2 linked regions of the Homo sapiens genome follow. The protein of the gene in region 2 interacts with the protein of the main gene of each other region in a pairwise test. Each region holds a gene or a part of one and is shown on either strand. Other genes may lie near its edges.

The links. The genes of interacting proteins can lie anywhere in the genome.
Region 1: the proteins of CIBAR1 (region 2) and CBY1 interact in binary tests that used the Homo sapiens proteins (3 or more experiments, as listed by UniProt).

The regions. Positions count from the first base shown.
Region 1 is NC_000022.11:38,666,018-38,673,971, reverse strand, and holds the end of CBY1 (protein chibby homolog 1), read right to left. Parts: intron 5,956-7,954; 5' UTR 5,918-5,955; coding exon 5,840-5,917; intron 3,089-5,839; coding exon 2,983-3,088; intron 2,903-2,982; coding exon 2,784-2,902; intron 814-2,783; coding exon 736-813; 3' UTR 122-735; downstream 1-121. UniProt on the Homo sapiens protein: Inhibits the Wnt/Wingless pathway by binding to CTNNB1/beta-catenin and inhibiting beta-catenin-mediated transcriptional activation through competition with TCF/LEF transcription factors.
Region 2 is NC_000008.11:93,695,820-93,703,865, reverse strand, and holds the start of CIBAR1 (CBY1-interacting BAR domain-containing protein 1), read right to left. Parts: upstream 3,317-8,046; 5' UTR 3,219-3,316; coding exon 3,193-3,218; exon of another isoform or gene 3,118-3,192; coding exon of another isoform or gene 2,809-3,117; intron 2,643-2,808; coding exon 2,408-2,642; intron 247-2,407; coding exon 178-246; intron 1-177. UniProt on the Homo sapiens protein: Plays a critical role in regulating mitochondrial ultrastructure and function by maintaining the integrity of mitochondrial morphology, particularly the organization of cristae.

The sequences.
Region 1 (7,954 bases), on a different chromosome or scaffold from region 2:
CTGCCCACCTCAGCCTCCCAAAGTGCTGGGATTACAGGTGTGAGCCACCATGCCTGGCCAGCTCCATTTACTTCTTGAGAAACTCATGGTTCTCTTTTTAGTCACTTTGGTCACAGAGAGATTATTTAACATCGTTTAATAAAAAAGTAGTAGTGCAAACAGGAAAGTAGCATAAAAATATAGTGTTGTTGTGGAAGGCTGGTGCTTGCTGCTGAGAAGCTGAAGCCAGAGGAGGCCAGGTGTGAGGAAGGAGGATTCTTTAAAGGCAAGAAGAGAGAGGCCTGCCTTTAAGAGCCAAGAGAGCCGCTCATCCATGACCCCAACACAGAGCTCTGTAGAACTGCTGTCACACGCCAAACACCAACATAAGGGGGTGAGAGAATGAACTCCAGCCGCTTCTCCCAACACAACCCAACAGAGCTATTCTGGGACATGTGTGTTTGCGAGCTTGTGTGTGGAGAGCACCAAAAAGCTCATCAGCAGCCCCAGGCCTCTGTGCGGTCTGGTTTTCAGACTGGCACCCGCAGGCAGTGCATCTGAAGCACCTTCTAGTTACTATCCCCATCTGGAATCTTGGTTTTCTCCATTCCATGTCACCTTCTATTGCCAACCCAAGGGTGCCAGTGCCTGTGGGTCTCATTATATGATACTCTCTTCCAGGACTGAATCCGCTAGTCTGGCCAAAAAAAAAGCACTCAGCCACATCCTACTCCCCAATAAATGTCTCTGGGGTCTTCATTTTCTCTTCCGGCTGATCCTCAGTTCATCCAGTTCCTTCTCCATTAAGTGGGATTCAGCAGTGGACTCTGAAAGCTGAAAGTGAAGCAGCGGCTGTTAGCAAGCAGCACATTTCTAGGAAATGTTTCGGGTTAGCAAGGCCGGCCCTACACACGGAGGAAAGGCCCCCTGCCACTTCTCTGATGCTGCTGGCTTCCTCGATGGGAAACCCTCTGTAACTGGGTAGAATGCAACCCCTGATGACCCAGGACCACAAGTACTTGAAGAATATTCACAGTCCACTCTGTCAGCACGCTGTCACCCACGAGGGCATGGCACTCCCTGCACGAAGGAGAGCAGGTCTCAGAGGACGTCAAAGGCAGATACTGGTGATTGTAAGGCTAAGGGATTAGAGCTGAAATTGATTCTAAGCTGTAGCTCCCATAATGGGGATGAGGGGAAAAAATGCTAGAAATAGAATGCCACTTTCCTCCTTAGGGTTTTTTTGTTTTTGTTTTTTGGTTTGTTTGTTTTCTGAGACACGGTCTCGCTCTGTCGGCCAGGCTGGGTGCTTTTCTTGTACTAACTCACTATGAGGTAGATACTACGATTATGCTCATTTTTAAAAAAAAACATCCAGGCCGGGCGTGGTGGCTCATGCCTGTAATCTCAGCACTTTGGGAGGCCAAGACAGGGAGATCACTTGAGGTCAGGCGTTGGAGACCAGCCTGGCCAACATGGTGAAACCCCATCTCTACTAAAAATGCAAAAATTAGCCAAGCGTGGTGGCGGGTGCTAATCAGGAGGCTGATGCAGGAGAATCACTTGAACCCGGGAGGCAGAGGTTGCAGTGGGGCAGTGGGTGGAGATCATGCCACTGTACTCCAGCCCAGGCTACAGAGCGAGACTCTGTCTAAAATAAATAAATAAATAAAAATAAAAATAAAAAAACATCCAGCCTAAAATGTCAGTCTTTTTCTTTTTTTTTTTTCCAAGATGGGGTCTCACTCTGTTGCCCAGGCTAGAGTACAGTGGCGCGATCTCAGCCCACTGCAACCTCCACCTCCCGGGTTCAAGCAATTCTCCTGCCTCAGCCTCCTGAGTAGCTGGGATTATAGGCGCATGCCATCACACCCAGCTAATTTTTGTATTTTTAGTAGAGACAAGGTTTCACCATGTTGGTCAGGCTGGTCTCGAACTCCTGACCTTGTGACCCGTCCACCTTGGCCTCCCAAAATGCTAAGATTACAGGCATGAGCCATCATGCCCAGCCTAGTCCTTTTTTAAAAAAAAAAAAAAGATGGCATCTTACTTTGCAGCCAAGGCTGCTCTCAAACTCCTGAGGTTAAGCCATCCTCCTGTCTTAGCCTCCCAAGTAGCTGGGACTACAGGGGTGCACCACCACAATTAGCTATTATGCCATTTATTGCTGAAGAAATTAAGTTACAGAGCAGTTAGTCAGTAGCAGAGCTGGGTGAGGAACCCAGGCCATTTTGCTCTGGAGTGTGTGCTCTTAACCACTACAGTGTATGCTCTCCTGCCTCTGAACCTTCACAGGCTCCTCTAGGCCCAGTGGGTTGCTGGATTTTTAACAGCCACAAGAAACCAACACTAATGCAGTGTGAGCCCCTCAGCTGGTCTGTACTGGGCACTGATTAATGCCTACTTGGTATGAGACACTTCCAAGCCATGAGCCGGCTCTACCCCTCTTCCTGGAATGCCTTCATCTAACCTCTATTCCTGCCATTATCCTTCCACATTCAGCTCAGATATCCCTTCCTCTGGGAAGCTCTCCCGACTTGACAGAAATAACTTCTCCCTCGTGTGCTGTGCAGATCCTGTGCAGACTCCAACTGGGTCCTTATGTAATTATGCTTACGGTCGGTCCACCTGCCTCTACACTGTGAGGGCAGGAACTGTGTCTTGTTCCTTGCGTGTGGCTTTGGATGCAAAGCAACGTACCTGGCCAAACTGGCATTGAGGAGATATCTGTTGGATTAAGTGACTCGAGGTGGAGCCTCCCCAAAAGGAGAAGCTAGGCCTCTCTTCCCCATCACCTGCCTCACCATGTCTAATAAGATGTCCACTTTCAGCCGCAAGAGATTGTTCTCTTCCTCCAACTGCTGGTTCCGCCTGCGAAGGCGCTGAACCTCCCTCCGGTCCACACCGCCACTAACCCCTGTCTCTGGAGGAAGGACAGAACCAGTTAAAGGGGGATTTCCTCCTACAATCTTGTTTGACAAAATGGCAGGAAGTGCAGCTCACCTGCTATCCACTGGCCATTTTCAAACTTCAGGCTTTGCCCTGCCAGGTTCATAGTCGGGGATCCGTATTCCAAGCCCAGCTCCACCTCCCGGGTTGATCGATCCAACTGTGGGCGAGATGCTATGTGACAACTTCAGCAGGCCCGGAACACGCCTTCATCCCAGCTCCTCTTCCGCCAACAATATGACCCCAACAACTCATTTCTCTAATCATTACTTGGCACCTTTAATGATTTTTTTAAAGCCATAAAATCAAATGATGTACAGGAAAAGTTTAATTGTGAGATAAAAAATATACTGTTTTATACATTAGATGTTTTCCAGAAAAGCTATATATACTGAAATTTATAAATTGAATTATTTTATACCTACTTGACACTTAATAGTTTAAGCAATCCTACTATAAACTGTTAATCAAGTGAAAAATTCTTTTTAAATGTAATAGTCCCCCAAGTTATCATTTGCTTAATATGGAGCTACATATGTTGTGGAAAAGACATAAAATTCTAACAATTAGGAGGAAGAGGAGTTGCTTCTTAACGTGCGACAGTACAATTTACATATTCTATTCTTTTCTTTTCTTTTTTTTTTTTTTTGAGACGGAGTTTCGCTCTTTCACCAAGGCTGGAGTACAGTGGTGCGATCTCAGTTCACTGCAGCCTCCGCCTCCCGGGTTCAAGTGATCCTCCCATCTCGGCCTCTGAATAGCTGGGACTACAGGCATGCACCACCATACCCGGCTAATTTTTGGGGTTTTTTTTGAGACGGAGTCTCACTCTTTCGCCTAGGCTGGAGTGCAGTGGCACAATCTTGGCTCACTGCAACCTCTGCCTCCCAGGTTCAAGCAACTCTTCTGCCTCAGCTTCCCGAGTAGCTGGGACTACAGGCGCACGCCACCACACCTGGCTAATTTTTGTATTTTTTAGTAGAGACAGGGTTTCACCATATTGGCCAGGCTGGTCTCGAACTCCTGACCTTGTGATCCGCCCACCTCAGCCTCCCAAAGTGCTGGGATTATAGACGTGAGCCACCGTGCCCGGCCTAATTTTTGTATTTTTTAAAGTAGAGTCAGAGTTTCGCCACATTGGCCAGGCTGGTCTCAAACTCCTGACCTCAAGTGATGCGCCCACCTCAGCCTCCTAAAGTGCTGGGATTACAGGCATGAGCCACTGCGCCTGGCCTAGATATTCATTTCTACAACTCACTGAGCACCCACCCCGATTCGGGACTCGGTACTGGGTATCCAGGGATGCGTATGACCAGCTCTGCCCTCAATAGCGGCTCAACACAGGGAGACCTTCAGGTAAGTGCTCAAATGTCCCTTTCTCAGTTAGGCCTTCCTGACCACCCTGTTGAAAATGAAAGCTCAGTCCCCAGTGCTCAGCCACACCCCATCCCAGGCCTATGCTTTGTTTTGCTGTCTGGCACATATCACCATCTGATATAAATTTGCTTATTTTCTGTAGCCTTCCGTTAAAGTATCTGCCCCATGAAAGCAGGGATTTGATGTTTTTCTCTCCCCTCCTTCATCCACTTCTGCATGCCCAGTGCTTAGGAGAGTGCCTGGCACATAGAAAGGTATCAATCAATAGCTCTTTAATTAATCTATTCTAGATTCTAGAATTAAACATTCTAGGCAGAAGGAGTAGCGTGCGCAGAGGAGGTTCACACGGGGCTTGGGCGGCTGCAGCACAGGGTGTGCAGAGGGCAAGGGCAGGAAGGAGAGCTGGAGTGAGGCCACCAAGGGTCATTTGTGCTGCTCCCAAGATCTGGGTGGTTATCCTGTAATAACGGGGAACTAATAAAATCCACCAGTGACCATATGGAGCGCTGTGGAGGCCTTACAAGTACCAAGGCTTACAAGTACCTGTCAGCATGTGGAAAACAATGTAGGGGAGGACCGACTTCAAGTCACGGTCAGAGACAGACGTCATGTAAGCACACTGCTGCTCTTACGCTGTGTGGGATTAGGACAGAGGATGTCCTAGAGGGACCGCCAGGTGTATCTGCATCTCTCACACATGGCAGAGAGGAAAGGGAGCCTCAGGCCTAGGGGCACCAGAAACTGAGATCCTAAGCCTCTGCCTGGCCTGCTCCACAGAATGCCCAGCTCTGGCCACAGTGGGGCTGCCCCCACCATGATTTTCACTGGGAACAGGAGACAACAGACTCTTAAGACCTGAAACCTGTAGTGAATGCTCAGCCCCCACAGCCTTGTTGTTCAACCCCACTCGCCTTCTGTGAAGACATGGCCAGTCTGCATAGCTAGCTCTGTAGGAAAAGGTCACAGAATAAAGTAGAAGTCAAATTGGATGATACTGGCTGGGCACAGTGGCTCACACCTGTAATCCTAGCACTTGGGGAGGCCAAGGCGGGTGGATCACCTGAGATCAGCAGTTCGAGACCAGCCTGGCCAACATGGTGAAACCCTGTCTCTACTAAAAGTACAAAAATTAGCCGGGCATGGTGGCGGGCAGTTGTAATCCCAGCTACTCAGGAGGCTGAGGAAGGAGAATCGCTTGAACCCGGGAGGTGGAGGTTGCAGTGAGTCAAGATCGCGCCACTGCACCCTAGCCTGTGGGACGGGAGTGAGACTCCATCTCAAAAAAGAAAAAAAAAATTTGGATATTTGGGGTCAAATATCATAATGAGATTGTCTTCTTAGGTTCTTGGATAAACAAGCTCTGACGATCATTCCCAAACAAGAGTTCAAAAATGTTTTCCGCAATAGCAATGATATGGACGGAAAGGATGCCCTCCTGCACTGATGCCTCTGGAGGACCACACTTTCCATTCAGAGACACGCTCAGCACTCAACTCATGCTGCACACCCGGCCGACCCCAGTACCGACACTCACAGAATGCAGGTTGGAGAGAGATGCCGACTTCCGAGGAGGTGTCTTCTTCGGACTGAACGTATTCCCAAAGAAAGGCATCTTTGGCCTGATGAAAGCAAAGCCAGTGCTCCCTTCTCCTAGGGTCAGAAAAAGTCAGGGGTACAAGCAGCTGGATCACTGACCTTATGCCATTGTCTTCAAATCTTGAAGACATACATTTTATCATGTGGCTACTAACGATCCTGGTGCTATGGTTTGAATGTCCCCACCAAAACTCATGTTGAAATTGAATTGCCATTGTTTAACAGTATAAGGGGTGACTGGGCCATGTGAGCTCTGCTCTCATGAATGGATTAATGCCATTGTCATGGAGTAGGTTAGTTTTCTCTGGCGTGGGCTCCTGGCAAAAGGATGAGTTCTGCTGCCATGCTGTCTGTCTCATGCACTTGCTCACCATGTGAGCCTTCTGCCTCACACAGGATGACCCTCACCAGATACTTGCACCATGCTCTTGGACTTCCCAGTCTCCAGAACTGTGAGCCAAATAAACTTCTTTTCTTTATAAATTACCCAGTCTGTGGTAATCTGTAACAGCAGCACAAAATGGATTAAGACGCCTGGTAATAGCTCCCATGTGCTGAACGCTCCCTTTGTGCTACGCGGTATGCTAAGATTTTTTGGGTGGCACACAGTGGCGCATGCCTGTAGTCCCAATTACTTGGGAAGCTGAGGCTGGGGGGTCGCTGGAGCCCAGGGAGGTTGAGGCTGCAGTGAGCTGTGGTCCACTGCTGCTCTCCAGTCTAGGCTACAGAATGAGAGACCATGTCTCAAAAAAAAAAAGTTAGCCTGGCATGGTGGCACACAACTACAGTCTCAGTGACTCAGGAGGCTGAGGTAGGCAGATCACTTGAGCCCAGGAGTTTAAGACCAGCCTGGCCAACATGGCAAAACTCTGTCTCTACAAAAAATACAAAAATTAGCCAGGTATGGTGGTGCGTGCCTGTAGTCTCAGCTATTCAGTAGGCTTAGGTGGGAGGATCACTTGAACCTATGAGTCTGAGCCTCCAGTGAGCTATGATCATGCCACTGCACTCCAGCCTGAGTCAAAGAGCATTACCCTGTCTCTAAAAAAAAAAAAATAAAGAAAGAAATGGCTGGGCACGGTGGCTCATATCTGTAATCCCAGCACTTTGGGAGGCCGAGGCGGGCAAATCAAGAGGTCAGGAGTTTGAGACCAGCCTGGCCAACGTGGTGAAACCCTGTCTCTACTAAAAATACAAAAAATTAGCTGGGCATAGTGGCGGGTGCCTGTAATCCCAGCTAGTTGGGAGGCTGAGGCAGGAAAATTGCTTGAACCCAGGAGGCAGAGGTTGCAGTGAGCCGAGATTGCGCCACTGCACTCCAGCCTGGGTGACAGAGCAAGACTCTGTCTCAAAAATAAATTAAAAAAATAAATAAATAAATGAGTAAAGCTATGCTTATATTTCCTTTCCAGATTGATAACAGTGCTCCTCACTTGTCACCAGTGTCACTTGTCAACAGTGCACCTCATATGTCACGTTACCTGTTCTGTTATGGAAGGTGACGTGAGGTGTCCTGAAAAGGGGGCAGGTCCACGACATGGCGGAGCTGACAACAACACCCCCCCAACCTGTACATTTGCTTTTAGCATAATGCAACCTATTGCAATTCACCTAGGCCTAGTTAAGTAGATTTCCTGATAACACCCTGGTTTTTGGGGAGAAAAGGAGGGGAGAAGCAAACTTTTTATTTAGGCTGGGAGCAGTGGCTCACACCTGTAATCCTAGCACTTTGGGAGGCCAGGGAGGGAGGATTACTTGAGCACAGGAGTTCAAGACCAGCCTGGGCAACTTAGCAGGGCCCGTCTCTACCAAAAAAAGGTTAAAAAAGAAAAAAAAATATATATATATATAACATTAATACAGAAAAGTCTACCACAAATCATAAGTGTAAGGTTTCATGAGTTTTTACTACACAAGTATAACCACCCTCCAGGGCCAGGCGTGGTGGTTTATACCTGAAATCCCAGCACTTTGGGAGGCCAAGGTGAGAGGATTGCTTGAGCCCAAGAGTTCAAGACCAGCCTGAGTGACACAGCGAGACCCCCATCTCTAA
Region 2 (8,046 bases):
GTCTCAAACTCCTGACCTCGTGATCCGCCCGCCTCGACCTCCCAAAGTGTTGGGATTACAGGCATGAGCCACCACTCTTGGCCACTACTTTGTATTTCTTATTTAAAAAAACAATTGGAAACCTCATAGTCTTTGCCAGAGTAACTCACAGTTAAGTGAGAAAATGGATTTACTTACCCGTTTCATTTTCACAATGGTCCCATAAGTTTTCAAGGGTTCAACTACTTTGGCTTCAAGTCTTTCAACCTATTGAAAATTATTAAAATTTTAAATTAGAACGTTTAACATTTTAACCTATAAATAAAAGGCTAATCACTAGAAATTGATAAGACTCAGAATCTAAACTCAAAACACATTAAAAACTGTTAAGCTGCACAGTAATAGTAAAAGTAGAAAAGCACCTGGTGAGCAAAATGACAAGAAAATGTCTCAGGTTTCCCAGGAGCTCATCCTGGCCACATCATCATCTTAGGATTACTTTTTTACCTTAAAGTAGTAGTTTAAGGGTGTTAAGACAGTTCAAATTTTAATACAGCTAACATTTTCAGTGTGTTCAGCACAGTAATGGATACTTTGCATATATTATCTCTGAACTGTAATAGCTCAACTTTTCAGAAAAGAAAATCAAAGCTGAAAGACAGAGCATCTTGGAAACATTTAAAGCAACATAACCTTGAAAAGCAAAAAAGCTTAGAGATCACTGTATTTGCTGCATTTTTTTTTCTGAGAAGCCATTTGTGAATTATCGAAGCCTACAGAACAAGATAAATGGTCTGAGTTGCTGAGCTGTCAAACTGTATGTTTCATCTCTGTTTCATTTAGAATTAAATAGTTTTTCTTAAACGTTACAGGTTTTTAAATCACATTTTGAGTAATTACTTCTTTTACAAGTAGTACTAGTGGAAGGCACTGAAGAGAGATTTTTTTTAAGGCAAGTATTTAAATATAGCATAAGAAAAATAACTCTTGGACATTAAAATTTTTTTTCTCAAGATAGGTGATGTATTCAATTGCTTAAAATGAACATTTTTTAATAGCAGGAAAAGGGCTTTTTAATGATACATATTTATATAATTGACAAATACACTTAATTTCATATTGATTTTTCTTTAGTTTCTGTAAATGAAATGTATATGAATGTTTCATTTTAAAACATGTTAGGAAAATAAAAATCGACTTCTCATCAAGTATTCAAATATTAGGAATCCTAAAATCATGGATATTCAGGACAGTTTGCTTTACACCATTTCTTATAATCCATACTGATTATTCAGTTTAAGGATTATCTAAGTCTTTTTTCTGTTCTCCTTTTTGTTGCCTACCTTTTTGTCATTGTTCATTAGGACCTCCACCATTTGGTAAGCAAGGGAAATAAAAGGAGAACAAATGCAAATCAATTCACTTTGCTATTTGATAAATAGCACAAAGGTTTTCTACAAAGGGGCATTGAAATTATTGGCTAAAATAAGATTTTAGGATTACCTGTGAATATAAATTATCTTTGAAACATTAAGTCCCCAGTTATCATATATAATTGAGAGTTACTTGTTTATTACAGAAGTTTCATGACAAGAACTCCACATTTTTCCAAAAGTACCTCCAAATATGATTACTCTTCAAATTTGTATGGATAGCAATGATGAGTTCAATTTTTTTTATACTCATTCTGTTTTTTGAAAATTGAAATTCCCGTTTTAGGTTCTGAAAAGTATAAAAAAGCAACGCAGTTCTAACTGGGCAACTTCTGATAAGTTAACCTATGCCGTGAAACTGAAAATAAATACAAGTAAAAGTGCTTATTAAGTATTTAAAGGAAAAATATGGGCTTTTAGAAAGAAAACAATCACAAGGACACTTCTCCTGCTACCCAGAGCAAAAAGTCCACACGGTGTCTCAGTATTGGTTTGCTTCCATGATACAATTCATAGCATTTTGTTGTTGTTAGTAAACCATTGGTCAATTTTCCAAACCATGGATGCAGCAATGATGTCTTACCCATTTATTAATAATTTATCCATCCACATTACCATTCCCAACATTTCCATCTCCAGTCATTCTTTAAAACGTACTTATGTGCCACACAAGACATTAAGTTATGCTTATTTTCTTCCCCCTGGGTACTATTCCCACTACCCCCAGTAAACAGCCACCCCTTGGCCAAAAGTTGGCAAATAAAGTGGGGAAATTCAAGACCTCAAGATGCCCTAAAGGTTAGCTTGAAAAGGGTAAAATAAAACACAGAACGCTTCTCTTTAATAGACTCACACAGTCTTATGAAAATGTACGTTTTATCAAGTTTGCATCCACCTCTGCAGTTAGGTAGATTACAAGTGAAAGTTTCCACGGTTCCTTCATCCACTACTTCATGGCTCATTCATAACAATGACACTGTGATCTCACTCCATACCTCTGCTTGTCGATAATCCTGAAGTTTGGCAAACTCATCTGCAAAGTTCATCAGGCCCAGCTTTAAATGCGGGGTCTCTGTAGCAGCATACGCGTTAATTTCATTCACCAGGAGGTCTGCTTTGTCTCTCAGCCTGGCAGTTTTCCGCACATAGGCAGCGAAGATTTGGCACAGTTCTCCAAAATGCTTCTCCACATTTGAGACAGCTGTTTGCAGTTGTTTCGTTTGAGCGTTCCTAGGGAAAAGGTGACACAAAAGGCAAAACATTCTCGTTAGAGATGAGAAGGCTTCACGTTAATTTAACATGCAAACATTCCCCGGGCATTCTGCAGCTTTGAAGGCGTAAACCCATCAACGACCCAGCGTCTCCCGGCGCGGACTGCTCTCCATGGGGTCCTGACCTCACTATCCGGACTGTGTAGGCACAGGAAAAGGCCCAGGCCGGGTGGGCCTGGCCTTAACTGGGGAGGTGGCTGCTCCGGCTGCTCCGCGCAGCGCGGCCTGGGCGCCCGGCTGCCTCCTAGGCTTCCGCACTGCCCGCGGCAGTGTGGGGACCCGAGACCCGGTGGCGTGGGTGGGTGGCAGCCGGCCGGGCCCCGGGCTCCTCTTCGCCGCCGGCGGTGGCTGCAGCCCAAGGAATTAGGCCCCAGGTCACAGCGGGGACCGTGCAGCCTCCCACTCAGGGTCGGAATTCGGCGCAGAGGCCCCATGGACAGAGGCTTCCACTTCCCTCACCCCAGCCCTCCAGTGTGGGCGGCCCTGGGCAGCTGGGCTCGGGCTGTTACCGGTTTTCCAGGGTGCGCCTCATCATGCTGCCTCGCGCACGGCCGGGGACCTTGCGGGGGCCCAAGGACGGGGATTCCAAGGCGCCTGGGCGCGCGCTGGGGCGCAAGCAGCCGCCGGGAGCCTGAAAGCCCGCCCCTCGCGCCGCCGCGGCAGGCCGGGCGTTTCTATGGAAACGGGGCGCGCGCCCCCGCGGTCAATGCCCGAGGCAGCCTGAGCGCGGCTGGGGCTCGGAAAGCGCCAAGCAGGCAGGGACCGAGAGGGGTGATGGCGCGCCCACCCCTGCAGAGCCGCCTGCGCGGTTGTCCCGCGCGTCCCTGCCGGCGAAGGCTGTGAGAAGCACCGCGGGGCTACGGCGCCTCCATCCTCTCTAACAGCCGCGCTTACCAGACAGCCAGCCTCCAGCGCTGCTAGGCTACTCCGAGCAGGGGAGAAAAGACGCCGGTCCGCCGGGGACCAGGAGGGAGACGTGAAACCAGAGGCCCGGGGGCCCCCTCTCCGCCTGTGCGACTTGTAGTCTCGTACCAGACGCGTCCGCTTCACTGCTGAATCTGAAAACGTGGGCTCTTGAGAGCTGCCCTTGGAAGGAGCTGTGCTTTCTGCCTCATCTTTAACTTTTCGTTTATTCAGCAAATATGTATCAAGTTCCGACTTCGTGGAAGAGATTGTGTTAGACACTGGGAGTAATAGAAACATAATTAAGAAGCAGGGGTCCCGGACCTGAAGGGCCTGAGCGTCGGGTAAGGAGGCAACGCTTACACCGAACCTGTGCTGAGATAAATAACGAACAGTTCTGGCTCTTAGAGTTGGCCTGGGGGAACAAAAATTCAAAAAGAATAAAACCCCAAACAAACAGGAGGCTCTCCTTTGTCCTTTGAACGCCTCTGTCCCTTTGACCCTCCTGGCCTTGCGTGTGCTGCTTTTCCCAGTAAATACTGCAAGGACTCTATTCAGACTTTGTTTATTTATATATGTATTTTAGATGGAGTCTCGCTCTGTTGCCCAGGCTGGAGTGTAGTGGCACAATCTCGGCTCACTGCAACCTCCGCCTCCTGGGTTCAAGCGATTCTCCTGCCTCAGGCTCTCAAATAGCTGGGATTACAGGCGTGCACCACTATGCTGGCCTGATTTTTTGTATTTTTAGTAGAGACGGGGTTTCGCCATGTTGGCCAGGCTGGTCTTGAACTCTTGGCCTCAAGTGATCCGCCCCCCTTCAGCCTCCCAAAGTGCTGGGATTCCAGGCGTGAGCCACCGGGCCCGGCCTCAATTCAGACTTTATCTGCTTCAAGAAACCTCTCTGGGATCCTCCGTCACTTCACTTTTTCAGGCAGCGTTAGGGCCTTGTCCTAACGCTTTGGGACGGGGTCCTAATACTGTCTGAAGGAGCGAAGTGTTGGAATGCTCAAACAGTACACTTCGTTGATTTTGTACTGCCTCCTGTACCCTAGACTTTGAACCCTTTGAGACAGATTAAATGTGATTTTGGTCTTGTATTCCTCGCTGCCGTGTGCTGCTGATTAAAAGTTTTTATTTTGTACAAATAGATGTCCTCAGTCCTTTGTTTTGAACTTCCCCTATTCGCTTGTGTTACAATGTGTATCTCTCTTTGCTCCTTGCATTCGCTCAGCATGTTATTGGTTGGATGCCTGGTGTGTTCCAGGTATTATGCTTGGCTTTGAGGTTGGCACAGTAACCTAAGGTCAGAATAGTCTGTGCTTTTAGAGAGCTCACAGTTATGTGGCAGTGATAGAAGCTAATCAAAGATGTGTAAAATTGCCACTGAGGTATGTGCTACTGTATCCACTTTTGCAGTGTAACAAATCACCACAAAACTTAGTGACGTTTTACAATCGTTTGGTTAGCTTGGGATTCTGAGTGAGCTGGGTGGTTCTTTTACCTTGGTTCTGCTCAGCTGGGCTCTTACTCACCTTTCTGGTCAGCTGGCGGCTGGATGATCTAAGAGGCCTCACTTCTGTGTCACGGCATTGGCAGGTCGTCAGCAGGGGCCACGTGTTTCTTATTGTCTAGCACCTCAGCCAGGCTTCTTTCCATGGTTTCAGAGTTCCAAAACAGTGGAGCAGGACAAGTCAACTGCACAAGTGCCTTTCAAGTCTCTGCCTATGTTATGTTTGCTGATACACTATTGGCGGATGCAAGCCATGTGGCCTAGACTAGAGGGATCAGAGTGAGAGGGCAGTGGAAATGTTACGGATGGTGTGGTTGGTAGAGGAATTGGTGGCTACTTTTCCAGTCTACTATTAGGGGAAACTACATGGCAGCAATTGAGTGTATACTTAATATAGAGGTTTGGTTTGAACTCATCAGGGAAGGACTTCATTGAGAAAGTGACATTTGAGCTGAGATCCAAAGAATAGGAAGGAGTCAACTAGGTGAAGAGGGAGTGAAAAACAGTCCCAAGAGAAGGACAGTATGAGCAGTTTGTCCCCTTGCCCTCCCCCAGCCCCATTCCCATCTCTACCCAGAATTTCATATCTCAGAAAATGATGCTATTGCCCAGTTGATTGTTCAAGTCAAAAACTTAGGAGTTACCCTTTCTTTTCTCCAGTCACATGGGCAATTCCTATCTGTTCCATCTCCAAAATATATCCTGAATCATTCTTCATTTTTTTCTACATCCCCATAATCCAAACTGCTACCACCAATCATCCTTACTGCAAACCTCCCTTACTAGTCTCCCCATGTCCACTGTTAAACATCGCAGTGTGAAATCAAACATTAAATCAGATGATGTCAACCCTCCAAAGCCTCTCAGTGTGCTTCAAATAAAAATTTAAATCCTATTCTGGCTATTAAGGCTTTATCTCATTTCCGCTTACCTATCTACCTTCTCTTGCTGCCCCACTGTGCTATAGACACATGCCATATGTGTGTGTGTGTGTGTGTGTGTGTGTATATATATATACACACACACACACACACATATATATGTATATAAGCTTCTCTCTCTCTCTCTGTGTTTATCTATAGATAAACTTATCTCACAGTTAGTTCTGTGTTTGTAATTCTCTCTGCCTGGAATGCTCCTTCTTCAAGTCCTCACATGGATGGCCCCTTCATATAAAATTGTACTTAAAAAACACCTATGAGTGGGGCTTTCTCTGATCACCAAATGATTCTTTCACCCTGTTTTGTTTCCTTTGAAGCACATGTCACGTCCTGAAATTAACCTGTTTATTTACATGCTATTTCTGTCTTCTCCCATCCACGTACTAACCGGGCTGGACCTCACTTAGCTTCCAAGATCAGGCATGTTCAGGTATGGCTGTAGATCTATTTCTGTCTTCTGTGACTAGAACATATTCTCCATGAAACTAGCCACATTGTTACCTGTTCACTTTATATTCCCAGTACAACCTCAGTGCTTGACTCATAGTAGAAATTCAATAATTAGTTGAGTTTATCAATGAATAAATAAATAAATGAGTGAAAACCCCATGACAGAGGAAACACAGTATGTGTGAGGACATGGAAGAAAGCTGATGAGGGTGGAGTGGAGGAGGTGGCATCATGTTCTGTCTGAGATTTAGTTGGAGGGGTAGATGGAAACCAGGTCGTATAGGGCATTTTGGCCATGCTAAGGAGTGTAGAGATTGGTTCTTGTATTAGTCAAGGTTCTTTAGAGAAACAGAACTAATAGTCTGTGTTTGTAAATATAATATAATATAATATAATATAATATAATATAATATAATATATAATATATTGTATAATTTTATTATAAGGAATTGGCTGAAGTAATTATGTAGGCCGAGAAGTCCCAGAATCTGCAGTTCACAAGCTGGAGACCCAGGAGAGCCAATATGTCATTTCAGTTCAAGTCCAAAGGCTGGAGAACCAGAAGAGCTGATGGTTTATTTCCTGTCTGAAAGCAAACAGGGTGGAGACCCAAGGAAAACAGATGACTGAGTCCTACTGGGAAGGCTAGAAAAGATGACGTCCCAAGTCAATCAGTCTGGTGGGAGCAGTTTCCTCCTACTGAGACTTTTTTCCTATTCAGGCCTTCGATTGACTGGATGAGGCCTGCCCACATTAGGGAGGGCACTCTCCTTTATGCAAATTTTAGTCTCATCCGTAAACACCCTCACAGACATGCGGAATTATGTTTGGTGGAATGCCTAATGACACATAAAATTAACCATTACAATCATTGTCTTTGTATCAATGTGAAGCTATTGATGTGTTAAAGCAAGTTATTTATTGTGTAGCTCTTTTTTTTTTTTTTTTTTGAGGTGGAGTTTCGCTCTTGTTGCCCAGGCTAGAGTGCAATGACGTGATCTCAGCTCACTGCAACCTCCGCCTCCCGGGTGTATAGACCGGGTTTCTCCATGTTGGTCAGGCTGATCAGAAACTCCCGACCTCAGGTGATCTGCCCGCCTCAGCCTCCCAAAGTGCTGGGATCTATTGTGTAACTCTTAAAGCTGTTAGCAAATGCTTGGTAAATGGTATCATAATTGTTGAACAGAAGCATATTGAATTATCCCTCTTCAATCTGTACTCAATATATGGAAATGAAAGTGCTCAAGGAAATTTCCTCCTAAGATACGGGCTCTTGATTTTACTCTTCTGTCAACAGATATCTAAAAAACATGCATTAACACAATTGTTCTCAAATCTTTTTACTACTTGGAGGCATGTTCTTTCTTATAGGCTATACTTTTTCCAAGGACACATTATCTCATCAAAGAGGAGCTGGTGGCCTGGGAGGACAAGTGCCTTGGCCAGAATTGCATGATTAGATAGCAGAGGTGGAACTGAATCTTTGTCTTCTTTCTTCAATGTTCTTTCCAGAGTACCAGGATCTCTTTCTCTCTTAAAAGTGATTTTTTTTTTTTTTT